4 separate regions of the Homo sapiens genome follow, and all the other regions are linked to region 4. The links come from fine-mapping of genetic effects on gene expression. A gene starts in region 4. Each other region holds a variant in brackets. All regions are shown on one strand. Distances are between the middles of the regions. Region 1 holds the start of NCBP2-AS1 (NCBP2 antisense RNA 1). Region 2 overlaps SENP5 (SUMO specific peptidase 5). Region 3 overlaps SENP5 (SUMO specific peptidase 5). Region 4 holds the start of SENP5 (SUMO specific peptidase 5).

Region 1 (2,654 bases), 71 kb after region 4:
TGACACGTATCCATGGCTACACTGATCATATTTCTTGGACATTCCTGTTGATAATTTTTGGTCCCATCATCTCTGTATTTTGGTTTGCAAGTTTAGATCACTGTACACTTCTTATCCAAGAAACCAGTGCTGTATATTCAAGTTAGGTTCTGTACATTCCAAGGCACCCTAATCAAGAGAAGGTCACCGTGCACGTGGAATTGTGCTGCACTTCACTAAAGGAAAGACTCAAGCTGTCACCAAGGTAGCAGTTCCCAAACCTACTTCATCAGAGACCTCCCTTTAATTAAAGGGGAAGACATTTAATCTCAGACAAATAAAAATAAGACAACAGTGTTCTGAATAAACCATCTGGAGAAACTAGTATCTTTGATGTTAGCAAGCCAAAATAAAATCTCTTTTCATTCTAGCATTTGGGAAACCTGTGTATCCCCGAGGCAAGCCTGCAATCTGGGAGAGAAGCCCTGCCTGGGTCCAGTGAGTCAGCATTCTTTTCCTTAATTATGAGCAGAAATCCAGGGATCACCAGACACTTAAGGAAAAATTTCAACCGAAACAAACATAATTCAGGGCACAGGAAAAAATTCAAAAGATATATTAAATTGGGCCTGCAAAATTTCTCAGAATATTAAATTGAATGACCAAAACATACAGTAAAAAGAACATAGGATAAATCCAAGAGGTCCAATACTTAAAAGAGTCTGAGTAAGGGAATTAAATGATCAAAGTAAATAGTTTTGGTTTGTACCTATACAGTCAGGTTATATACATCTATATAATGAAATACTATACAGCTATTTACTTAAAAGTTTTTTTCTTTAAAGATGGGGTCTTAACCCGTCACCCCCGCTGGAACACAGTCACAACTCAGTGCAGCCTTGAAATCTTGGGCTCAACTGATCCTCCTGCCTCAGCTTCCTGAGCAGCTGGCACTACAAACACCAGCCACCATGCCCAGCTGTACAGCTATTTTAAAAAAAGACCTACATATGCTGAAATGGAACAATAAAAAATAAAAAAATGATTTTAAAAACAGCACATGAAATACACTACCGCACACCCACAGGGTTACTTCTTGAAAGACGCCCAAGAAACTG[G/C]TAACTGACTGCCTCTGGCAAAGGGCATTAGGGGTTTAGAACAGTACGAGATTTTTATATTTTCACTACATTCTTTGGAATTTTTTTTTTTTTACGTGAAGGGCAAACATTCTTGAAAAACTTTTTGTTAAAGAACCATAAAGCATGGATTTCAGAAGAGAATATAAATAGTATCAGCTTTACAGTATAAGGGCAGAGACACACTGGGTGGAAAGTAGGAGGGAGATGAAGGAAAACGTAGGGACGAGTGCAGGGACGCTTATGAGCTACCACTCTCAGCTCTACCCTGGTTCAGCAGCTACATTAGATCCATGGGAAGGATACTCCACAAAACAGAATCCACATGCTGTTTTCTTCATTTTATCCAGACCCATAATGATTTTCTTTATGTCACCACTTTTGCTGAAGAGTTCATAGATTTGTTCTTCAGTTGTGTAAAAAGAAAGATTTCCAACATATAACGTACAGCTTTTCTTCAGTAATTTTTCTTGTTCTTCATTGTCACCCTAGAATTTCAAATAGAGACAAAAGTTAAGCAACTTCAGAGCCTTGCTTAAATAGTATTTCTAAGTACGGTAGAGACATTCATTAATTCTGGTTTGGAAATCAACTTCTCTCATCCCAGCCTACCAGAAATCCCTTGCCCAAAAAGGGGGATGTCGACCTTCTGTGAAGCACTTATGCGAAGTCCAGACTCTTAGTAGAGACAGGGCTCAAAAGTTATACCACATACAACAAAGTCACTTCTACGCCCGACTGCCACGCAAGCGGCTTCCCTTTTCCCTGCACACACCATATCCTCAGCAGTGCATCCTTTAAACCCAAGTGTAGACTCTGGACCTTGACCCAATATATGACAAAGGGCCCTTTTATCCTTCGTAGTGAAAAATAAGTGGGTTTTCAGAGAGAGAGAGAGTTCCTCTTTAATAACCCCCTAGAGACTGTTGAAAGCCACAACCTTGATGCTTTACGTGCTCATAGATCTTTCTCTGAGTTTAGGGGAAAATGTAGTGATCACTAAAAACAAAACAGAGCTCACTTTCTTAATGGGCTTCCAAATTGGGATGACAGGATGAAGCCAGAGACTTAAGCATATAACTGGGCTTCATCCAACACACCTGACAGACAAAGCCCTGGGTCCAAAATGGCTCATCGGGGTCAGGCGCGGTGGCTCATGCCTGTAATCCCAGCACTTTGGGAGGCTGAGGCGAGTGGATCGCCTGAGGTCAAGAGTTTGAGACCAGCCTGGCTAACATAGTGAATGAAACCCTGTCTCTACTAAAAATACAAAAATTAGCTGGGCATGGTAGCAGCGGGCGCCTGTAATCCCAGCTACTCGGGAGGCTGAAGCAGGAGAATCGCTTGAACCTGGGAGGTGGAGGTTGCAGGGAGCTGAGATTGCACCACTGCACTTGAGCCTGGACAACAAGAGTGAAACTCTATCTCAAAAAAAAAAAGTCCACAGGACAATAGTCATTGTATGTTAAAAAGAGGTTTTCGGAACTTTGGAGTGAGACATTAGAGAAAGTAAATTCCTTTCATTTTACTGCTGTTACT
Region 2 (2,654 bases), 65 kb after region 4:
TGTGAGAAAAAGCAACCTTGGAGGCCAGTAACAATGACAGATTTCAATCGTGGTTTTAGGAATTATAATACGTGGCATACATCTCATAAAGGCTTTTGCTGGGATATTGAATTCCCTGAATTTTTCTGTTTTCGACCTGTTAAAAAAATCTTAACATCCATCAAACTAGTGGTCAAACAAATGAGAATGCAGCTGTTCTCAGAGTAATTTTTAAGTTGTCATTTCCCTGTGTTGCCTCCCAATTGGAAGAAGTTAAGGTTTACCAAATGCATTTCTATTTCAAGGGTATCTGAAACGTAAACATTCAAAACTGAAGGCTGACTGACTTGAGATGTTTTGCAGGTGGCTGGAGAGAAGAGGGAAGGTAATAGAGACAACTTAGTCCCATGGGAGCGCAGCAACCGTGTCAGGTTCTTTCTCCTGTCCCATTAGTGACCTCAGTAACATGCAGGGTACGTCTGGCTTCTGCATGGCCAGTGCTGACACTAGCACAGCTGTTCTTCTCCTTCTGTTGAACCTCATCTTCTGAAGAAAGGCCAAGTGGCCCTTGTCCATACACTTAGCTGCATTAGGATGAATATCACGCGTCTCACATCTTTAATCCAGCCTTTCGTGACATGTTGGAAAGATACATGTGAAACCTACCCAGTTACCCTTTCTGAATTGGGAGGAAAACCAACCAATGTATGTATGAGAAACTCAGAAGTCTGAATAGAAAAACAAAGTAAATGGCAGAAGATTCTCGAGTTTATGCCCGCGTAGGTTTGGAGTGTTGAAAAAGCTAAAATGTTTAGTTTCACTTGGCCCTGAGGTATGGTTGAGAAGGCTGACTGCCAGCAGTTGAGGATTGAGTCCGACCATGTTTACATGCAGGGTTCCCAACACCAGTGGTGACACTGGGAAGCAGCCCCAGCACTTTCCTCTCCTGAGTCCTCCAGACCCAAAATCCTTAATGTCAAACCAGGTCAGTGTTTCTTACTGTGTTTCAAGTCGTTAAAAAGACTGAGAGTAGAGGCACTTTATGCTGCTATAGGTGGGGTTCTGTCAGCGTTAGGAAAAAATGACAGTTTAGGGTAAGGAAGATCTCATAATGAGTTTTTCAAACATAATTATGCAAACATGAGATTTTTCAAAACATGCCAGAAATTTGCCTCTGATTTTTTTTTTTTTTTTTTTTTTTTTTTTGTGGGGGTGTGGTATACCAAAGTAGCCAGTCACTGGGCTGTCAGTTCAAAATGTCTTGTACTTCAGAGTGAGGAAGTGTTTCAGTTCCTCAGTGACAGAACCTGGCATGCAGAAGAGACAGAATTGTTCCTGTAAGAAAATCAACGCCGAGAGAGAGCTGCCCAAATCCAGTGACTCTTCCACTTCCAGTCTCATGCTTCATAGGGCACCTTGAGGTGTGCTGCCCAGTGTGGCTTAGACTAAATGTTGAGTTTGGGTTTTTT[G/T]TTTTTTTTTTTTTTTGAGTCAGAGTCTCACTGTCCCTCAGGCTGGAGTGCAATGGCGCAATCTTGCCTCACTGCAACCTCCACCTCCCAGGTTCAAGCGATTCTCCTGCCTCAGCCTCCCAAGTAGCTGGGATTACAGGTGTGTGCCACCACGCCCCACCGATTTTTGTACTTTTAGTAGAGACAGGATTTCACCATGTTGGCCAGGCTGGTCTTGAACTCCTGACCTCAAGTGATCTGCCCGCCTGGGCCTCCCAAAGTGCTGGGATTACAGGCGGGAGCCACCGTGCCTGGCCAATGTTAAGTATTTTAAAAGTCATTTTAAAATATTTGTCATTGATGAAACTTGGTTTCAGCACACGTAATTGCTTTCCCTCTCTTCTTGTGATTAGGTGTAAACCTCTATTTAACTCAAGTCCTAGATTAGAATGTCCTTTGTCCTGATGTTTGCAGTAATTGCTTCCTTGGTTAATAAAGATATTTTTGAAATATACTCTGGACTGTTGGTGAAAGAGGCAGGCATGGCTTTACTGGTACTAGTTTGGCACTGAACTGTTTGGGTGCCCATGAGGTAGGCAGACCTTATGCTTTTTTTTTTTGAGACGGAGTCTTGCTCTGTTGCCCAGGCTGGAGTGCAGTGATGTGATCTCGGCTCACTGCAACCCCTGCCTCCCAGGTTCAAGTGATTCTCCTGCCTCAGCTTCCCCAATAGCTGGGACTACAGGTGTGCGCCACCACTCCCAGCTAATTTTTGTATTTTTAGTAGAGACAGGGTTTTGCCATGTTGGTCAGGCTGGTCTCGGAACTCCTGACCTCAGGTGATCCACCCGCCTCTGCCTCACAAAGTGCTGGGATTACAGGCATGAGCTACCGTGCCTGGCCTAAACCTTACGCTTTTGAGGTTGAGTGCAGGCCTTGTGATAACTAAGCGCTACTTTTGACGAGCCTTCAACAAGCTGCCCAGTCCTCTCCTCAGCAGACGCATCAGGTTGTAGTTGCATCTTTACAGTGGTCTTTCCTTTTATTAAATCTATAGCAGTGAATATAGATTTGATTCAACTTTTAGTTACGTTCTCTCAAGAATCCTAATCAACTTTCAGTTAGCCTCTTAAGAAAGGGAAAAAAAGGTGCTGCCAGTCATCCCCAAATTATGTTTTTGGCTGTGCATTCTATTTTCTACATAGCACTGAATCTGAGTAACAGTCA
Region 3 (2,500 bases), 31 kb after region 4:
TGTTTACTGTACCCTGACCTTTGCTCCTATGTTAAGCCTTGAAAATTGAGAGGTACTCTGGTGGGAGATTAACAGGAGGAAAAATAAATTGTTCACTTCTTTGTCTGTCTCTCCCCTCATAAAAGACAAAACACTTCATTCCCAAGACACTCTTATCATCTTTTCTATCCTGTTTATATCAATGCATGGCAGAGGCCATTCTTGGAGTTACAAAGGGAGCTGGTTAAGATATGTGGCTAACAATCCTCATTTTTCCTGTCTTAACTCAGCAGACTTAACCGTCAGACTGATGGTTAGCTAATTTGTTGCTCTGCCCATTCAGCATTGGTGAACAACCTAAGTCATGTCTGTACTTCTGTGAGCGTCTAAGCCTTGCCTCAGCTTTTTTGTATTTACTTAGAAATAATGTCCTGGGTGGCCAGGCGCGGTGGCTCACACCTGTAATCTCAGTACTTTGGGAAGACAAGGCAGGTGGATCACCTGAGGTCAGGAGTTCGAGACCAGCCTGGCCAACATGGTGAAACCCCGTCTCTACAAAAAAAAAAAATACAAAAATTAGCTGGGCGTGGTGGCGGGCGCCTGTAATCCCAGCTACTCACGAGGCTGAGGTAGGAGAATCACTTGAACCCAGGAGGGGTGGGTTGCAGTGAGCCGAAATCGCACCATTGCACTCCAGCCTGGGTGAAAAGAGCAAGGCTTTGTCTTAAAAAAAAAGAAAAAAGAAAAGAAAGAACGTCCTGGGTTTATTTCCTGGGGCTTTTCTAGGTTCAGTGGATCATTCAGGGATATATATAAGCACATATACATGTTACTTACATTTACCTGAAGACTGTCCTATGGTGTGGCCAAAAAGCCACCTTTAAATTTTATTTCTCATCTTGGGAGGCTGGAGCGAAAGGATCACTTGAGGCCAGAAGTTCAAGACCAGCCTGAGCAACATAGCAAGACCCTCATCTTAAAAAAAAAAAATTAAAAAATTAGCTGGGTGTGGTTTCACTTGCCTATAGTCCCAGCTAACTATCCAAGCAGGAGGATGGCTTGAGCCCAGGAGTTTGAGGCTGTAGTGAGCTATGATTGTGTTACTATGCCCCAGCTGGGATGATAGAAAGAGACCCCATCTCCAAAAAATTCTATTTACTGTCTTAAAATGTGCTTCACTAGCTGGGTGTGGTGGCTCACGCCTGTAATCCCAGCACTTTCTGAGGCCGAGGCGGGCGGATCACAAGGTCAGGAGATCAAGACCACCCTGGCTAACACGGTGAAACCCCTCGATGATAGTTCCATTCGATTCTATGCGATGATTCCATTCCATTCCATTGGAAGATGATTCCATTCGAGACCATTCGATGATTGCATTCAATTCATTCGATGACGATTCCATTCAATTCCGTTCAATGATTCCATTAGATTCCATTTGATGATGATTCCATTCGTCTCTACTAAAAATACAAAAAAATTAGCCGGGCGTGGTGGCAGGCGCCTGTAGTCACAGCTATT[T/C]GGGAGGATGAGGCAGGAGAATGGCGTGAACCCGGGAGGTGGAGCTTGTAGTGAGCAGAGATCGTGCCACTGCACTCCAGCCTGGGCAACAGAGCGAGACGCCATCTCAAAAAAAAAAAAAAAAAAGTGCCTCACTAGCTGTTATCCAGTTGAGCTCACCTCACAGCGTTATTTGGTGTCATGAGTATAATAACTTATCAAGATGTATGATATTGTCCCTTGCTGATACTAAAGTACATACCTTTACCAAATAATAGAGTCACAGTGATCTCATCAGTTAATGCTAATTGTGATTTTAAAATAATAATTCTTTCAGTTACCAAAAGGATAGGCACATTTGACTATGTGATTAAGCCCTTTAGAAGTCACGCTTTAAGAGAAGGTTAAGCTGTGGGAAGCTGTTAGTATTTCCTTCTAGCTATCCATTCCTTCTCTAACAATGCTTCAGTAACTTAAAAATCTAATGTGAAATGATTCCTCACAGTATGTCTCTCTAGATTGCATTGGTTAGAGCCTAATATATTTTATTTTTTACAAAAGACATAACTTTAAAAATATAGTATCAATATTATATAGTAATATAGGTTAACCACTGTATGTGTTAAGTGCTGTGTATAGGTTAAGTGTTTGGAGAATGACTCTACTGAAAATGGCTTGTTTTTCCATCTTAACTTTTCTTTCTTCCTTTATTTAAGGATTCCTAGATGAGGTTATGAAGAAGTATGGCAGTTTGGTTCCACTCAGTGAAAAAGAAGTCCTTGGAAGATTAAAAGATGTCTTTAATGAAGACTTTTCTAATAGGTATATAAATGATGCTAAAGTTAAGCCCTTGAAAATAAAATTTTTGGCATATATGACTTTTCTCTTGATTTACAGAAGAAAAGATATTTAGCAGTAAATTGAGAAGTACTCATGTTTTTTTTACCTTTTGTTTCAAAATCTTTCTCTTTCAGAAAACCATTTATCAATAGGGAAATAACAAACTATCGGGCCAGACATCAAA
Region 4 (2,654 bases):
ACTAAAGAAATACAAAAAAAATTAGCCAAGCGTGGTGGTGGACGCCTGTAGTCCCAGCTACTCAGGAGGCTGAGGCAGGAGAATGGCGTGAACCCGGGAGGCAGAGCTTGCAGTGAGCCGAGATGGCGCCACTGCACTGCAGCCTGGGCGACAGAGCGACACTCCTCTAAAAAAAAAAAAAAAATCACTGACAAAGAGAAACTGTTAAAAAGAAGTGAGAGGGCCTGGTGTGGTGGTTCACGCCTGTAATTCGAGCACTGTGGGAGGCCCAGGTGGGAGGATCACTTGAGCTCAGGGGTTCAAGACCAGCCTGGGCAACATAGGGAGATGTCATCGCTACAAAAATAATGATAGTAATAGTAATAAAAAATTAGCCGGGCGTGGTGCAGGAGCCTGTGGTCGCAGGTACCCTGGAAGATGAGGTGGGAGGATCGCTTGAGCCCAGGAGGCAGAGGTTACAGCGAGCCTAGGGTGTGCCACGGCACTCCGGCTTGGGCGAGACAGCAAGACCCTGTTTGGAAAAAAAAAAAAAAGAAAAGAAAAAAGAAAAAAAAATCAACAGTAATTGCAGCCATTGCTTAGAACTAAGACTAAACAAAGCTTTTGTTTGGAAAGGAGTACTTTTTCATTAACATTGTTTAGAATTTTCTGACACATGATGATAATTAAAAGCAAACCATCCTGCAGTTGGCTTCGGTATTGTTTTTATCTTCTCCACCATCAATGCATATCCTTACTGCCTACACAGGCTCTCAGCAACGCACTGTTGGTTTTCCATTGCAGTCACCTCCACTTTATTCTTCCAGATCGAGTATGTTCAAAACTGAACTCATCTTCCGCCATAAATCTGCTATTATTATGTTTTTGCCTGTCAGGACATCGGCTTATAATTTTGGAAAGCATTCACAGTTGGGGCGGGTAAGACATAGATAAAGAGGCCAATCACAATACCAGGGGTAAGATCAATAGGAAAACCAGAGAGCGGACGCCTGGGCCAGGCCTCACAACGTCCAGAGCTGGAATGGGTCTTTTGCTTTCGGCGCAGGGGTGACGGGATCAGCGGAGGGTAGGGGTGTACACTAGCTGCGGTCTGATTTAGCCCTTTTAGGTTAAAAGCTGGAGAAGGGGCTGAAGTCTCAAACGCGCTTAGCAGCTCCTGAACGCGGTTCCCATCCCAGCGCGTTCTGAGGGAGGCCGGGGCTAAGGACGCGGTGACGGGCGGGGGCGGGGCGGCCCCGGGTCGGGAGGCGGGGCGGGAGCGCCGGAAGCGGGCGGTGCCAGGCCCAGCCTCGCAGGCGGAAGGGCGCGGAGGAGGTGACGCGATAGGCCAGCGCCGGCGTCGCGGCAGCCGCTTCAGAGGAAGCTCGGCGGCTGTGGCCGCGGCGAACAGGCCGGACGCCTCGTCGCTGGCGGGGCTTCCCTTGGAGCTGACGAAGGCGGGGTCCGCGGTCCAGGCTGCTGCCGCGACGGGGCCGGCGGCGGGGCAGCTGCCAGGAACGAGGGTAGCAGGTAAGCGGGGACGCGGGCAGACGAGTGACGGACTCAGCGATCGCCTGGCGGGGCTGGCTGGGGCCATTCCCGCGCCGGTGCGCCACCTCAGCGCCCGGTCCGGAGGCCTCGAGCCGCCCTCCCCCGCCCGAGCTGGAGGCCGCCGTCCGTCTCGGCCACAGCCTCCCTTTCCGGGGGAGGCGAGCGAGCTCGTCCCGAGGGGCCGCTGCCCTGCGCTCTCGCTCCAGCCGGGCTGTGCGTCGCAGGCACCGGGAAGCTGGCGCCCCCCAGCTCCTCCTGAAGCCGGGAAAGCTCTGAGAGGAGGAGCCGCTGTCACAGGCCTCCAGCTCCGGCCGCCGTGGAAGTCCGGGGTTTTTATTTGCTTAGACCGCTCTGCCTCCTTCCGGCCTTCGTTTCTTTCCTCGCGCTCCCCGGGACCCTTTTCCAGAGAGCCCGGTTGGGCATGAGCGCGGTGGGAGACGTCTTTTCCCTTCGGTCTGCTCTGAGCGGTATCAGCCTCCGCTCTACGCCCTGTGGCCACTCTGTCGGGGTGGAGGGATGCGGAGAGGATGTGGGAGTTTTGGACTTAGAGCGAGAATAGCCGAGGTGAAATCCTACCCTGCTCTCTGGTAGTGTTTTTCATCTCATGCTAGATAGACATTTCGACCTTTTTCACCGCAGGTAAAGTGGGACTTTCTTCTACCAATGTAAATTATAATGTTTGGAGAATTAAATGAAGAAAGCAGACGTTAGTTATGAAATGTTTTGAGAATCTGGTTAAATTTAATTTAAGAATATCCAGGACACTTCATGATAGGTTCCTACTTATGTTTTTTTTTTGCATTTTGCCCGGAATAACTAAGCTTGGTATGGAAAAGGTTGCCTAGAGATGCCAGGCGCTCGTGTGGTCAGAGCCTAACTGCAGTCTCTGTTTTGGGTGGGCAGCATCAGGAAGAAACCAGACTCTCTCCTAGCCATCCACATGTCTCACGCTTATTGATGGCATATTATTGGTATATGAGGGATGGCTTATATCAGTTTTGATCTTTACTCAAGATAGCTTTTTCCCAGTGCATCTTTTCTAGGAGAAAAGCTTGGTATGTAGAGGAGGGTGCTGGGGAGGGGGGCTTCATTTACACCTGGGCTCACAATTTTTTTTTGGAGGG

Evidence for each region. PIP is the estimated chance that this variant, and not a neighbour inherited with it, causes the effect.
Region 1: its variant is fine-mapped to the expression of SENP5 in blood mononuclear cells (TOPMed, PIP 0.98).
Region 2: its variant is fine-mapped to the expression of SENP5 in monocytes after R848 (Quach 2016, PIP 0.95).
Region 3: its variant is fine-mapped to the expression of SENP5 in fibroblasts (GTEx, PIP above 0.99). The same link has a PIP of 0.9 or more in blood mononuclear cells, lung and whole blood.

What each region holds. Positions count from the first base shown.
Region 1 is chr3:196,937,830-196,940,483 of GRCh38, forward strand. It overlaps NCBP2 (nuclear cap binding protein subunit 2), which reads right to left. Exons shown (of 4, transcript NM_007362.5): 2 at 1,422-1,603. NCBP2-AS1 (NCBP2 antisense RNA 1) reads left to right here and starts at 2,048. Exons shown (of 3, transcript NR_046630.1): 1 at 2,048-2,298. The variant G/C (reference allele first, on the strand shown) is at 1,098.
Region 2 is chr3:196,931,572-196,934,225 of GRCh38, forward strand. SENP5 (SUMO specific peptidase 5) reads left to right here. Exons shown (of 10, transcript NM_152699.5): 10 at 1-2,654. Among named protein-coding and RNA genes, the nearest start is that of NCBP2-AS1, 7.0 kb to the right of the region's middle. The variant G/T (reference allele first, on the strand shown) is at 1,449.
Region 3 is chr3:196,897,474-196,899,973 of GRCh38, forward strand. It overlaps SENP5 (SUMO specific peptidase 5), which reads left to right. Exons shown (of 10, transcript NM_152699.5): 3 at 2,193-2,298; 4 at 2,451-2,500. Among named protein-coding and RNA genes, the nearest start is that of SENP5, 31 kb to the left of the region's middle. RefSeq lists an enhancer at 1,115-1,622. The variant T/C (reference allele first, on the strand shown) is at 1,498.
Region 4 is chr3:196,866,565-196,869,218 of GRCh38, forward strand. It overlaps SENP5 (SUMO specific peptidase 5), which reads left to right and starts at 1,356. Exons shown (of 10, transcript NM_152699.5): 1 at 1,356-1,509. RefSeq lists a silencer at 1,133-1,712 and an enhancer at 2,364-2,654.